2 linked regions of the Homo sapiens genome follow. The protein of the gene in region 1 interacts with the protein of each later gene in a pairwise test. Each region holds a gene or a part of one and is shown on either strand. Other genes may lie near its edges.

Region 1 (7,278 bases):
GTGTCTCTTTGTTGCCTCTACTGTATTTAGGTTCCCCTACAAACTTCCCTTTCAAAAAAAACCTTGCATCTCTTTCACCTGTCATCCACTGTTATCATACGGGAGCTCTGTTGACGGAGGGGTGAGATGTGGGGGCGGGGTGAGGTGTTCTATAGTCTTCTGATTAAATCTCAGTCTTTTAGTGGGCCCTTGTCCCCGGACTGTGACCTGTGACCTTCATGAGCGTTTCTAAACTTTTTTTTTTTTTTCCTTTTTCTCTGCCAAGTTGAACTGCAGCTGGAAGACTAGAGGGAGCGAGCATTGAATAGTTACCCTTCAGCTGCCTAGCTAAGATAACGCTCTGATAAACTCTTTTCACTGGGGAGTAAGCCTTTGTTACAGGAAATGCTCTACGTATATTTTAAAATCATTAGATTTCCCTTCTCTCTGCCAGGGACATCAGGTGATATTTTTTGGTATATACTGTGAGAACCAAGTTGTATTCCTGGAAGTAAAGCCTGTAAGTGTTTAGGGGGCGCCTTGAAGACTGCAGCCCCCAGGAGGCTCCAGTGCTCACACTGGTCCATACTCAGCCTCTTGCCAAATTCCTGCTTAGGTGTTCCTGCCAGTTTGTGGTTCCACTGGCATCAGCTGCAGGTGATCTGGTGTCTGCTGTGATGCTCTGTAATCTCCTCTCTCTCCCGGTTTCAGGCTGGTAGTTTCCTTGAGACCTCAGTTCTCTGATGGGTCCAAGACGTCATTGATTTTTAGTTTCTCCAGCTTTTTTCGTGGTGTCGAGATATGAGTGATGACTTCCAAGCTCTTTAGATGTTGAAGCTGCAACTAGAAGTCTTCCATGAACTTTCTTTTAAAAATAGACAGTATGGCATAGTGCAGTGTTTCTCAAAAGAAAATAAATATATTGATCTCTATACCTTATTAAGTGTTGATATATTATTTTATTATAATTTTATGTTAAAATAGAGAAACACGAATTTAGACCTAAACACTGTAAGCCTACAGTTCTTAACCAAGTTTTTGAAATATAATGCATATGTTAATTAAATTTTAAAATCTCGCAAAAAAATTAAAATTTTAACTAACACCACCAATTTAAGATTGTGTGGGCAAGCCAAAATATTATTATAGGTTTAATAGAAGGAAGATACTATTCAATTCTGATACTGTCCTTGGTCTGTTTCTGTATTTGACTTCAATAATTCTCATATAGGAAAGTTCTGTTTAATAAGGCTATATAAAATGTTACTGGTACCTTCACAGTTTTCTGCTTATGATTATCAAAGAAAAAGCTCTGCCAATATGCAATTTTTCAATGTCAATTTTATTAAAGAATGTTTTGATAATTCTGTAAATGCTTTATAATCCCACAGCAATATGTGTCCGTTGCAGCATTATTAAAATCTGTATTTATATCACTATTTACTTATTGCTTTGAATTAAGAACATGAAAAATTTTATCTCGAAACTTTATCATATATATATCATACAATAAATAAGTCATAATGTATTAACTATATATTATGACTAACAACCTGCTGTAACTTTAGACATACAAAAATACCTCTTAATGAGTGTAAAATGTTAACTCTTCTTTTGAGTTCAGTATACCTGTACCACAGTGAGTCCTAGGACATTTGAATCAATTCTCTCAAGCCATTTGCCTATTTGATTATGAATCTCTGTTTGGTCACTGGGCATAATCTTACATGGACCTCATTCTAGACACATATATCCATAAGCAACAAAAATAAAGTAATTGGGATCCATCACAATAACTATGAACAAAGTAACTATCCACATGATCTGGAATTTGCCCATATTTGTGGCTTGTTTTCTGTATACTGTTTTTGATGGAGATATTATAGTCCCCTAATAATACATATACCTACTTCAGCTTAAGAAAAAACTATATTTTGCCAAATTTTGTAATCAGACTGGGTTTAAATACCAGCTCTGATGACTCATAACTCTGATCTCGAGAAATTTACTTACCATCTCTAAACATTAATTTCTCAATTAGGGAAGTGATATGACAAAGTTGCTGTGAAGTCAAATGAAGGAATGAATGCAAAATCCCAACCCTTTACATATTACCTCTGTTCTCAATTAATCATTGGCTTGAACTGAACATTTTTAACATGGTTCCCTGCTAAAGGTGTTTTTACATATAGTAAGACCTAATAGATAATATTATGTTACATAATCTATAATTATTATATATAAAACTATATAAAATTATATAGTACCTATTTAGACATATAAAAAGGGAAGTTTTTTAATGAAAAATTAGATTGGCTGAAGAGTGTGGAAATCATCACATAGGGAAGTGGTCAGCACTGTGGATATACACCAAACAGTATTACAGAGACATACTGAAAATAAAGCACACTGACAGAAAGAAACCTCATTAGGATAGAATTTTGGGAGATTGGTGTCTTGTTATTCCCAGAGTCTGACTTTTCTAATCACGTAGCATTGTCAGGGATATCTAAATTTTAAACTTCAGATTTTGTACAAAAAAACCTAAAAGGACTATATTTTAAAATAAGAAGCATGTACAAATAATTGTAAAGGAAAGAGTGTGAGTTTTGTAGTCTCCAGTTCTGTGTCAGTAAGAATTTGATGAGGAATAGCCAATAGCATTTATGCTGGTCCAGGCTGGATCAAATTGTGATCGTACTTCTAGTCTTCAAGCTGCCTGGTTAGAAATTATGCAGCTTACTTTGATGCCTGTCCTACTACTACTATTAGCCTTTTAGTGGTTACCTTAAGAATAACTGAATAATACTGTTACTTTGCATCTCTCAAAGACCGTGCGCTGTTCCCGCATACTTTCTTGCAGACGTATTGTCTTCTGAAGGATGGTGCCCATGGGCACAGCAATTTGGGGCATCTTTTGGTAGGAAGCATGATTTCTCCTGTTTGGGCACAAAAGAGTGACTACGGAATATAAGCTAAACACCTTCTCCCAGAAATATCAGTTGTAAAACTTAGCTCATTAATGTAATGTTGAACGTTTTCATGTGAGTCATACTTGAACTTCTTGAATGTGAGTAAATAACGGAGTTGAATTGTATAAAACCCTGATGGATGGCAGAAGGGAAAGAACATCCCTTTCATCTGATCCATGCCTGAGATTCCTTCCCTCTACTATACTACTGGAAATAAACAACTTGTCTGGTGCTCTAAAAATTAATGCTATTATCATTATAGAGAGAACAGGAGTGAGTGCTTTTAGGTTATTACTTGTTCTTACTAAGGCATCATATTCTTTCTTCACGTGTTTTGTGTTTGAGGCTAGGGATAAAGGTACAGGAAAAAGGATCTAAGAAAAAAACTCGAATCTCTAAACATGGAGTCTTTTTTTTTTTTTTTTTTTTTGAGGTGGAGTCTCACTCTGTTGCCCAGGCTGGAGTGCAGTGGTGCGATCTCTGCTCACTGCAACCTCCGCCTCCTGGGTTCAAGCAATTCTTCAGCCTCAGCCTCCCGAGTAGCTGGGATTACAGGCGCATGCCTGGCCAATTTTTGTATTTTTAGTAGAGACTAGTTTCACCATGTTGGCCAGGCTGTTCTAGAGCTCCTGACCTCAAGTGATCCAGCCACCTCGGCCACCCAAAGTGCTGGGATTACAGGCATGAGCCACCACACCTAGCCAAACATGGAGTCTTTACTCAACATTATAGTAACGTGAAAGAGGAGATCATGAGAATTAATGTATGTTTTAGAAGGCATAGATTACTTATAAAAAAGGAAAGATCAGGCTGGGCACGGTGGCTCGCGCCTGTAATCCCAGCACTTTGGGAGGCCAAGGCGAGCGGACCATGAGGTCAGGGGATCAAGACCATCCTGACCAACATGGCGAAACCCTGTCTCTACTAAAATACAAAAAATTAGCCGGGTGTGATGGCACACGCCTGTAGAACCTGGGAGGCAGAGGTTGCAGTGAGCGGAGATCACACCACTGCACTCCACCCTGGTGAGACAGCGAGACTCCATCTCCAAAAAAAAAGGAAAGCTCAATCTGCTGTAAATTATGTGCTTGTTTCAACAACCCTTGTTTCTTTTCCTTTTCACTTCTCTTTTTTTTTTAAAGCGGCCTAAATGGGGTGAAGAGTGAGTTATCTGACAAATTTAGATTTTGCAAACCTGTGCATTGATGAGAGTGCTATTGAAACACATTAAGAAAGATTTTCAACGCAGGAATGTGTCATTTCCTTTCTTCATGTACCAGATGCTGAAATACTATGAGATAAAGATTTTAGGTTTCAATTGTAAAGAGAGAGAAGTGGATAAATCAGTGCTGCTTTCTTTAGGACGAAAGGTAAAGAAAAAAAAAGGCTTATTTTAATGTTTTTTCCAGAATTGTTTCTATTGATTGTTATGTGTGTACTCTGTGTGTGTGTGTGCATGCATGTGTGTGATATATATTTGTGTGTCTGTGTGTGTATGATGAGATGAATGCTTTATTGTATCAGCAATAATTTGGTTTGGTTTTTTTCGATAATCAAAAAATAGGGATTTCTGCTAAATTTTCCATGAGTGAAAAACATATATGTTCACAAGTACATATGAAATACACTAAATGCTTTGTAGTTTGAACCAGCAATGGGGTTTTTTCATATAATTAAGCATATTTTGTTTAAAATACTGGTTTTATTCAAAGTATAATTTGACATATTTCACCTATTCTCCTTTCATAACTTTTCATGGAACATTTTTGGCTTTAATCTAATGCCTTTTATTATCTTCCCTTGATTATATAGCAAATATTGGCTGGGTATCTACTATATGCACTTCATTGAACTAGATGTGGGGAAAGGATACAAAAAATAAGATATAGTTCTTTTTGTGCTCCGGAATCTTATGATTTAAAACATATCCCCAAATAGGCATAATGTAATTTGAGCACCTTAAGTAGTATGAAAGTACTATAGATAATTACTAGCACCTTAAGTAGTATGAAAATGCTATAGATAATTACTATGAAAATATAGGCGAGGCCAAAATTACTTCTATGTGAAAAAAGTCTATCAAAAATAAATCTTCATGGAGATGCTAGAAATCTGATTAATCTTGAAGACTAAGTAAGATTCACACAGCATATAATGGGAGGTTGGCATTTGCACTGACCAGGTAAAAATACTTATAGAAAAACCATAGAACTGAGATTACAGATGTTTTATGCAGTGATTAGCCGTTTTATGCAGTGGGTAAGAGCTAATCTTCTGGGAGTAGACTGCCTGTGTTCAAATTCCAGCTCCCCTGCTCCCTAGTTGAGTAACTTGACTAGTTACTTACACATTTCAGTTCCCTAACCTGTAAAATGGAGAAAATACTACTTGTACCTCATGAAGATTCCGTGAGAACAAAATAAGAAAAGCTCATATTTAAAAAAAAAGTGATATTTTAAAATAACAGGGATTCATATATTGATGGTTTTCTGTGTACCAGGCAATTTACAAAAATTATTTTTAATTCTCGCAATAATTCTTTAAATTTATATTGTGATCATATTTTACATATCTAAAGAAAGTTCAATTCAAATAAGTTAAAATATTTGCCTAAGATCACACAGCTAAATGATGTCACAGTCAATACTCAAATCTAGATTTCAGATTCAAAAGTTGATGCTCTTTCTTCTTTGCTACCAAGGATGAATATCAGTGACATCAGGCACAATATAAATATTTCCATTTCTTACTAAAATCTGTCTTACAGACGGGTTCCTTAAGCATAAAGCTGTTAGTTTCACAAATAATCTTAATTTAATTTTCATTTTATATACACATTCAACTGCTGTTACAAAAATCAAAGTTATTATTTTATATAATAAGGAGGATCACAAGCTTATTATTTATTCCAAATGTTGAAGATAAAGTTGGCCTTAAGAATATGATGGGCCGGGCACGGTGGCTCACGCCTGTAATCCCAGCACTTTGGGAGGCCAAGGCAGGTGGATTACCTGAGGTCGGGAGTTCAAGACCAGCCTGACCAACATGGAGAAACCCTGTCTCTACTGAAAATACAAAATTAGCCGGGCGTGGTGGTGCATGCTTGTAATCCCAGTTACTCCGGAGTCTGAGGCAGGAGAATCACATGAACCCAGGAGGCGGAGGTTGTGGTGAGCCAAGATCACGCCATTGCACTCCAGCCTGGGCAACAAGAGCGAAACTCCATCTCAAAAACAAAAAGAAAGAAAGAAAAAAGAAAGAATATGATAAAAAAACTAAATAGGGAAAAATCTTAGGAAAACGAATGCATGTCAAGTATGAAAAGACAGATGGTAAATATGTATTAAACATAAAGAGCTGATTCACATGCTTAGGTAAAAGAAACCTGTGGGGATGTATAAGCAGTGAATATGAATAGATAATAACCCAAGAAGAACAATGTATGACAGACAATTACAGTGAAATCTCTCTCTTACATTAATAATAAAAAATAAAAATGAAAACCACTTTTAGGTATTATTTAACTCTTATCAAAATCTAAATGATTCTAAAATAAGCTTTATTATTCAATGGTAGTGAATTTTGCTTGAAACTGCCATATTCACATATAAGTCTGGAATATTTATAAATTTATGTTATCTTTTTAAAGATCACTAAGACAGTAGAGCCCAAGAAGTTCAAAATAGTTTTCCTTTCACTTTTTAGTTTCACATATGATGAATTATCCTAAAGAAACATTTTAAAAGAAGAAAGCTAAATTATGAAAATAATGGCCGGGGCAGTGGCTCACATCTGTAATCCCAGCACTTTGGGAGGCCAAGGAGGGTGGATCACCTGAGGTCAGGAGTTTGAGACCAGCTGGATGAACGCGGTGAAAAATACAAAAATGAGCTGGGCATGGTGGCAAACGCCTATAATCCCGCTACTCGGGAAGCTGAGGCAGGAGAATCACGTGAACCCAGGAGGCAGAGGTTTCAGTCAGCTGAGATCACACCATTACACTCCAGCCTGGGTGACAAAGCAAGACTCAATCTCAAAAAAAAAAAAAAAAAGGAAATATTTATAACATCATTATTTATATCAGTGAAGCATTGCCCCCTGGGAAAAGGAAAAAAAGTTTAAAAGAAAAAATTATATTTTAGAAAAATGGCTGTATTTTTTATTTAGAAAAATGGCTGTATAAATAAGATTTTATATATATATAAAATATATATAAAATAAGATTTTATATATATATAAAATATATATAAAATAAGATTTTATATATATATAAAATATATATAAAATAAGATTTTATATATATATAAAATATATATAAAATAAGATT
Region 2 (7,026 bases), on another chromosome or scaffold:
TTACCTGGGAGGCTGAGGCAGGAGAATCGCTTGAACCCGAGAGGCAGAGGTTGTGGTGAGCCAAGATCGTGCCATTGCACTCCAGCATGGGCAATAAGAGTGAAACTCCATCTCAAAAAAAAAAAAAAAAAAAAAAATCTGTCTTCTGCCCCAAACCACCAGAACTTCAAAGGCTATTCATGATGTCTTTCTTGCCAAATCTAAGCATATTTTTTAGTCCACCTCTAAGCTGGCTGTGGCATATGACATTAGCTCTACTCTCTTCTTCAATCTGCAGCTGCCTAGGCGTTTAACCTGAGGCTTATGAATATCCGAGGGTACTACGTTGGATTGCAGAGTGTCTGTGAACTTGCTAATATATCAAATTGTACACCTATGGGCATTTTTTCTCTGTACTGTGTCCACAGTTTCTCAAATTCTCAAAGGATCCGGGAGCAATAAGGTTGGAATCCATAGCTCCCCCTTCTGCCTGCCGCCACACTTGGCTTTTCTCCTCTTCCCTGGATCTCCCTGCTCAGGCTCCATCTTGGAAACTCTGCCCTTTGTCCCCAGGGTCCAAACCTGGACCCTCTGCCTCTCAGCTCAATCCCTTCCTCTCCCACATGCTGACGACCGAAGCTCTACACCAACTCCACCCTGGGTGGCCACGCCCTACTGGACAGCTCCATGTGGTTGTCCACAGTCCCCACCGTGAACACCTCCCAAATGAGGCCAACCGTCTTCCTCCTTCTTCCCGCCCACCTCCTCTTGGGTTTCCTTCCTGGGAGGCTGTGGTTACTGACATCCACATATTACCAAAGGAGTCAGGTTCAAGTGACCCCTCTCCCATGGAGTCTTAGCTGGGCTGGTCTGGTTGGTGAGAGACCCTGCTTCCAGAGAAACCCTGATACCTCTGGGGTCCATAAGGTCATTCCGGTGAAGTGCAGAGAGCACAGGCATTGGATTTGCAGACCTGGATTCAAATCCTGGCTCAGCACCGCCTAGGTGTTACAGTTTCCTCAGGGAAACACCCTACCCATCTTGGAGGGGTGTAGTTAGGATGGAGGTAACAGAGTATCTGATTATATGATGAGTATATACATTGTATTATATAATAATATTAATATTATATTTTCTTTTTTTGAGACGGAATCTCACTCTGTCATCCAGGCTAGAGTGCAGTGGCATGATCCTGGCTCACTGCAACCTCTGCCTCCTGGGTTCAAACGATTCTCCTGCCTCAGCCTTCCAAGTAGCTGAGATTACAGGCACACACCATCATGCCTGGCTAATTTTTATATTTTTAGTAGAGACTGGGTTTCACCATGTTGGCCAGGCTGGTCTCAAACTCCTGACCTCAGGTGATCCACCCACCTCGGCCTCCCAAAGTGCTGGGATTACAGGCGTGAGCCACCGTGCCTGGCCTTAGCTCTCTTGTTGGTAAGGAAAGGACTGGACGTACGGGAGCACTCTCCGGCGCAGACTAAGGTCCTGGCCTCTGCCGGGCCCCGCACACCACCCCACTGGAAGCCTGCCTCCCCTCCTCTCAGGGATGCCACTCGCTCTAACGTGCTCTCAGAAGCTGCTCTGGAGCCATCCTGAGTATGCAGCGCCGCCCCCTTTCCCCCGTCTCCTCAGCTTTTGAAAGCATTTTCATGTGCGCATCTAGGAATGTCAGCCTTGAACTGGTGTCTGCGTTCAGCTTCCACTGCTTCTTGGCACCCTGACTCTTCTGTATTGATTCCAGTGCGTCCTTTGTCCAGCAGCTGCACTAGGATCCCGCCGAGTCTCCCCTTGCCTTGCTTTGTGGGCTCTTATTTTCTCTGCCTGTGGCTTGTGCCTTGCATGACAAGCTGGGGGCTGAGGGAGGCACGTGGAGACGTTATCTCTCATGCCCCCATCACTGGCATCATGGTCACAGGCTTACTAACCCTCTACACTGGACCTTTATAAGACAGGCACATTTTAGCTCTCTGCCAAGGCCGTGTGGCTGATAGAGCCCTCAAATCATCCTCCCTGCCATGCAGGAAAGACCTCTCCTATAGGTCAAGCCTCTGCCCGCCCCCTCACCCCAGCATCACCCCTGTCTGCCCATCCGGCCGGAGCTGGTACTGAGTGGCATCTCTGGAGGAATCCGGCGGAGGGACCTGGGCCAAAGCTTCAGCATCCCCTTCCCCCTCCGGCTGCCAGCCCTGGCGGCCCTGCCACTGTTTGTGATTGTTAGGGGAGTGCCGGGCGGACAGTGGGTGATTCAGCGAGCAGGCCTTCTGAGCAACAAGCTCCGTGCTGTGCCTGAGCTATTCAGCGTGAGCAGAACAGGGCAACCATGGCTCGAGGGATGCCTGCAGTAACCCTCGGTGACCGGGAGGAGCTCTGGGCTGGATTTGGGGGAACTTCCTGCAGCTCGCTCACCAGACTCATCCTGGGTCAGGTGGATAAATGAAGTTCCTGATGCCGTGACCATGGCCCCTCTCATGTCAACCATTCAGGCACTTGACTTGCAGAGTGCAGGGAAAAGAGCTTCCCCTGGCAGAGTGAGGGCAGCTCAGGAAGCTCAGAGCCAGGACAGACAGACCACAGGGCAGGTGGCATGTACCTGGAGGCCCAAGGTAGGCAAGATGCTTGTGGGGCTGGCTGTCCCAGCGGCTATACTTAAACCCACAGTCATCCTAAACCCCAGTCTCATAGGCTCTTTAGACACTGCCCCATATCAGCCTGTCTTTTCATCCTCTGCCCCCCAGCTAGAAGCTGGGGCGCACCTGGTATCCACATCCTAGCCACACGCCTTTCAGCTACTCCCTTGATATCTCTGAGGCTCCATTTCCTCAGCTCTAAAAGGGGATAATGACAGGACCCTTCTTATGGGGCTGCTGGGAGGGGTAAATGAGGCGGTCCTGGGAGAACACGTGGCCCCGCACATGGCAAGTGTCCCATAGAGGTTAGTGGGCCATTACTCCCAGTCTGGGGGTCTGCTGCCTGAGCCTTTGCCTTGGACACACTCTAGGACACTCCCAGATCTTTCTCTCCCAAGTTCTCTGCTAATCTGTGCTGGGTTCATAGGCCAGTCCGAGTCTAGCTCTCAGCTGTGTCACCCGATGAAGTGATTTCATTTAGTTTCTTAGCAAAGAATCCCACATCATGTGTCTTTTGGTGTGACACTCAATGAGAGGCACTCAATCTCTCTCTCTCTCTTTTTTTATTGCTATGCCACCCGATGATTCCATTTAGTTTCTGCTGATGTGTTGTTGGGTTTTGTATCCATTTGGGGGGTAGATGGGAGTCAGACAAAATTCTTCTTTGGAAGACTATTTCTACAGAGAGGCTTCACCAAAAATGTCTGTGATGTAGTTTGGGGTTCTGTGCTCTCAGAAACTCTGGGCCAGGGAAAGCACTGAGGTCTCCTCCCTCTAGGATCCTCAGGGCAAGTCAGGAAAGAAACTGGCATTACCTGTTGTAAATGACGTGAAGAGTCGGACGTTGCCCTGGGCAAAGGTTCGGTAGTAGGACCAGCTGAGATACAGCACCAGGGGCACCCAGATGATGGGGACACTGTACCTGCAGGAAGGCCATCAGGGTGAGAGAGATACATGCACAGGAGCTTGACAGAGTACAGCTTTCTTTTTTTTTTTGAGACGGAGTTTCACTCTTGTTGCCCAGGCTGGAGTGCAATGGCGTGATTTCGGCTCACTGCAACCTCTGCCTCTGGGGTTCAAGTGACTCTTCTGCCTCAGCCTCCCAAGTAGCTGGGATTACAGGCATGTGCCACCACACCCAGCTAATTTTGTATTTTTAGTAGAGATGGGGTTTCACCATGTTGTCAGGCTGGTCTCGAACTCCTGACCTCAGGTGATCCACCCACCTTGGCCTCCCAAAGTGTTGGGATTACAGGCGTGAGCCACCATGCCCGGCAGGGTCCAGCTTTCTTAGAGACACATAACTCAACTGGATTGGGGACAAGATGACACCAAAGCATATGCAGAATGCCTATGGAGACCTGGGGTCAAAGGGACACTGGTACAGGGAGTGGGGAAGAGAAAAGAGGAGAGAGGCTGTGAGTCCATCTGCCTCCTGTCTCTGAGATGAGTTACTGGCAGAAAAGAACTGTGTCCCCAGGGCTACTGACTCTATGCAACTGGTCAGATGCTGACCTCTTGTGGCAGAGGAGCTAATTGCAGGCAAAATTGTTCCCATGCGCATCGTGGGCAAGAAACTCCTCATAAGAGTCTGGAATAGACCAGAGGTGGCATTCAATGTAGTTTCTGGCTACATGCTGGGTTGTGACCCACCCAGTGGACAAAACCATGCATAGGGATGAATTATTCCCATGGCATGTTCCTCCCTCCCTGACAGCTTTACAGCATAGACCTGGGCTCTGGGGAGGGACTCAATTGCCCCCTCCCTTTCCATATCTGATTGGCACCGTCAGAAGAGAGGGACAGCCTGCCACAGGCTCAGGGAAGAGCTCACCAGACAGTCTTAGAGAGGCCCTCAATGAGGTCTGAGTGGAAGAGGCGGATGGGCCTGGTCACCGGCTGGTGAACCCACTCATCGTACTTCTCTCCCAAGTGGCCCACCTGCCACAGGAGAGGCTTTCGCCAGTCCACCAGGTCCTGCAAGAGATGAAGCCAAGTGGACGTTTGATATTCACGTCTTCCCATATTCGTTCTCCCATTTCCTCGTTACAGCATCCCAATCCCCTGCTCCTACCTCAGCTCCTGTGATCTGTGTGGGGCCACCCACCCTCCTGCTTCAGTGATCAAGAACTGACCAAGCTGCTCATCCCAGCCCCCAGCCACAGCAATAGGATCCGGTAAAGGTTTGCGACCTAAGCTGGTGTGATGAGCCATCAGATGATCCCTCTTTCTGTTGGAGGTGCTAAATCGGCAGGGCATGAGCCTGGATTTACTAGCAGAGCCTGCCTGAAGATGCCACCAGCACAGAAGATGGCCAAACCAAGAGCTAGAGAGACAGAATCTCAGTGATGATATCTGAGCATCCAGATTCAGCCACATCTGAAGTTTAAAGTCTTGCTCAGGACTCTTGAGGTACAGGAGGTAATACATTTTGTATCAGGAATGAAGTGGGCTCTTTTCCCCAGGCTTCTTGGTGTTGGCCTGGGTAATTAATTCATTCAATCATTTATTCAGCAATTTATTTTTTATATATATATTTATTTCTATGCTAGGTGCTGGGAAGAATCAACAGGAATGAAAGAGGCCAACCTTGTTTCATGTAGCTTAGTGCTTACAGTTAGACTCGGAAGTCAGGCCTGGGTACAAATCCATTTGCCATTTACTGTGTGATTTCTGGAAAATTACTTAACCTCTCTGAGCCTCAGTTTCCCCAGCTATAAAATGGAAGTAATTGTTGGTTGCAGTAGCTCATGCCTGTAAACCCTGCATTTTGGGAGGCTGAGGCAGGATAACTGCTTGAGGCCAGTAGTTTGAGACCAGCCTGGGCAATAGTTCGAGACTCCGTCTCTTCAAAAATAAAAAAATAATAACGGTACCTGCATTAAGTGCTCAATGAGATGTGGCATGCCAAGCAGGATAGTTTAGTGGAGATACAAAGCAGGCTGAGATCCAGAGGCAGAATGGCTGGTACAAATGCCCGGGTCACGGTAGGCGAGGAGGGCTTTGCAGAGGATCTGGGTTTTGGTTTGGAGTTCATCAACATGGGGGATTTGACAAGGGGGAGAGAGGAAAGGATGACAGGGAGTGTGGGCACAGATGTAAAGTTGAATATGGTTGTGGCCTTTCTGGCACCTTAACAGTGCTCTGTGGGCAGCAGGAAAAAAGCTGCTGAAGGCTTAGATGATAGAACACCCTGTACCACATCCAGGAGTTGCTTATTCTCCAGGCCTGTTGTCTCCAAGGCAAGGATGTACGTGTACTCCATCGGTACTCACAGGCTAATCCCCAGAGGCAGGGAGAAAATATTAACGACCCTATTTCTATTGCTATTATTTCTATTTATTTGTGTTTGTAATATATTTATCTCTTTCTTTTTTTTTTTTTTTTTTTTTGAGACAGAGTCTCGTTCTGTCGCCAGGCTGGAGTGCAGTGGCATGATCTCAGCTCACTGCAACCTCCGCCTCCTGGGTTCAAGTGATTCTCCTGCCTCAGCCTCCTGAGTAGCTGGGACTACAGGCACGCACCACCACGCCCAGCTGATTTTTGTATTTTTAGTAGAGACGGGGTTTCATCATGTTGGCCAGGATGGTCTTGATTTTTTTTTTTTTTTTTTTTTTTTTGAGACAGAGTCTTGCTCTGTCACCAGGCTGGAGTGCAGTGGCACGATCTCAGCTCACTGCAACCTCCGCCTCCCGGGTTCAAGTGATTCCCCTGCCTCAGCCTCCCAAGTAGCTGGGATTACAGGCACATGCCACCTCGCCCGCTAATTTTTTGTATTTTAGTAGACAAGGGGTTTCACCATGTTGGCTAAGATAGTCTCAATCTCCCGATCCTCGTGATCTGCCCGCCTCGGCCTCCCAAAGTGCTGGGATTATGGGCGTAAGCCACCACACCCGGCCTCTTATTTGTTTTATTAAGAGGTGGGTCTTGCTGTGTTGCTCAGGCTGGACTTGAACTCCTGGGCTCAAGCGATCCTCCTGCCTCAGCCTCTTGGGTAGCTCAGACTACAGGAGCGTGCCACTACGCAGGCTTTATCTCACCTTTACACGGCATTTGAATGTTTTCTAATGCACAGACTGTGAGAGTACATTAACACATGCAAATACTTTAGAAATAATTTAAATGGACACATAATGGAGAGTGTGTGCAGAAAGTTTCACTCATAGGGATGCAAGCTCAGAAAAGTTTGCAGGTTTCAGCTCCAGGCAACTAGAAGCCCTTGAGGATTTCTGACAAGCCAGTGCTGGGTTAATCTGGACCGAATCCAGGAAAGAACAATGAACCTGGAGTCAGGGGAACACCATTAGAGCCTGGCTGTGCCTTTGACCAGCTGTGAGATCCTGGACGTGCATCTTTTCCTCCCGGAGCCCCTCAGTGCCCTCATCTGTGATGCTGGTGGGCCCCAATCTGCCAC

What was found. The genes of interacting proteins can lie anywhere in the genome.
Region 2: the proteins of MSR1 (region 1) and FA2H interact in binary tests that used the Homo sapiens proteins (3 or more experiments, as listed by UniProt).

The regions. Positions count from the first base shown.
Region 1 is NC_000008.11:16,189,641-16,196,918, reverse strand, and holds the start of MSR1 (macrophage scavenger receptor types I and II isoform type 1), read left to right. Parts: upstream 1-4,267; 5' UTR 4,268-4,321; intron 4,322-7,278. UniProt on the Homo sapiens protein: Membrane glycoproteins implicated in the pathologic deposition of cholesterol in arterial walls during atherogenesis. Two types of receptor subunits exist.
Region 2 is NC_000016.10:74,722,798-74,729,823, forward strand, and holds part of FA2H (fatty acid 2-hydroxylase), read right to left. Parts: intron 4,590-7,026; coding exon 4,447-4,589; intron 3,535-4,446; coding exon 3,428-3,534; intron 1-3,427. UniProt on the Homo sapiens protein: Catalyzes the hydroxylation of free fatty acids at the C-2 position to produce 2-hydroxy fatty acids, which are building blocks of sphingolipids and glycosphingolipids common in neural tissue and epidermis.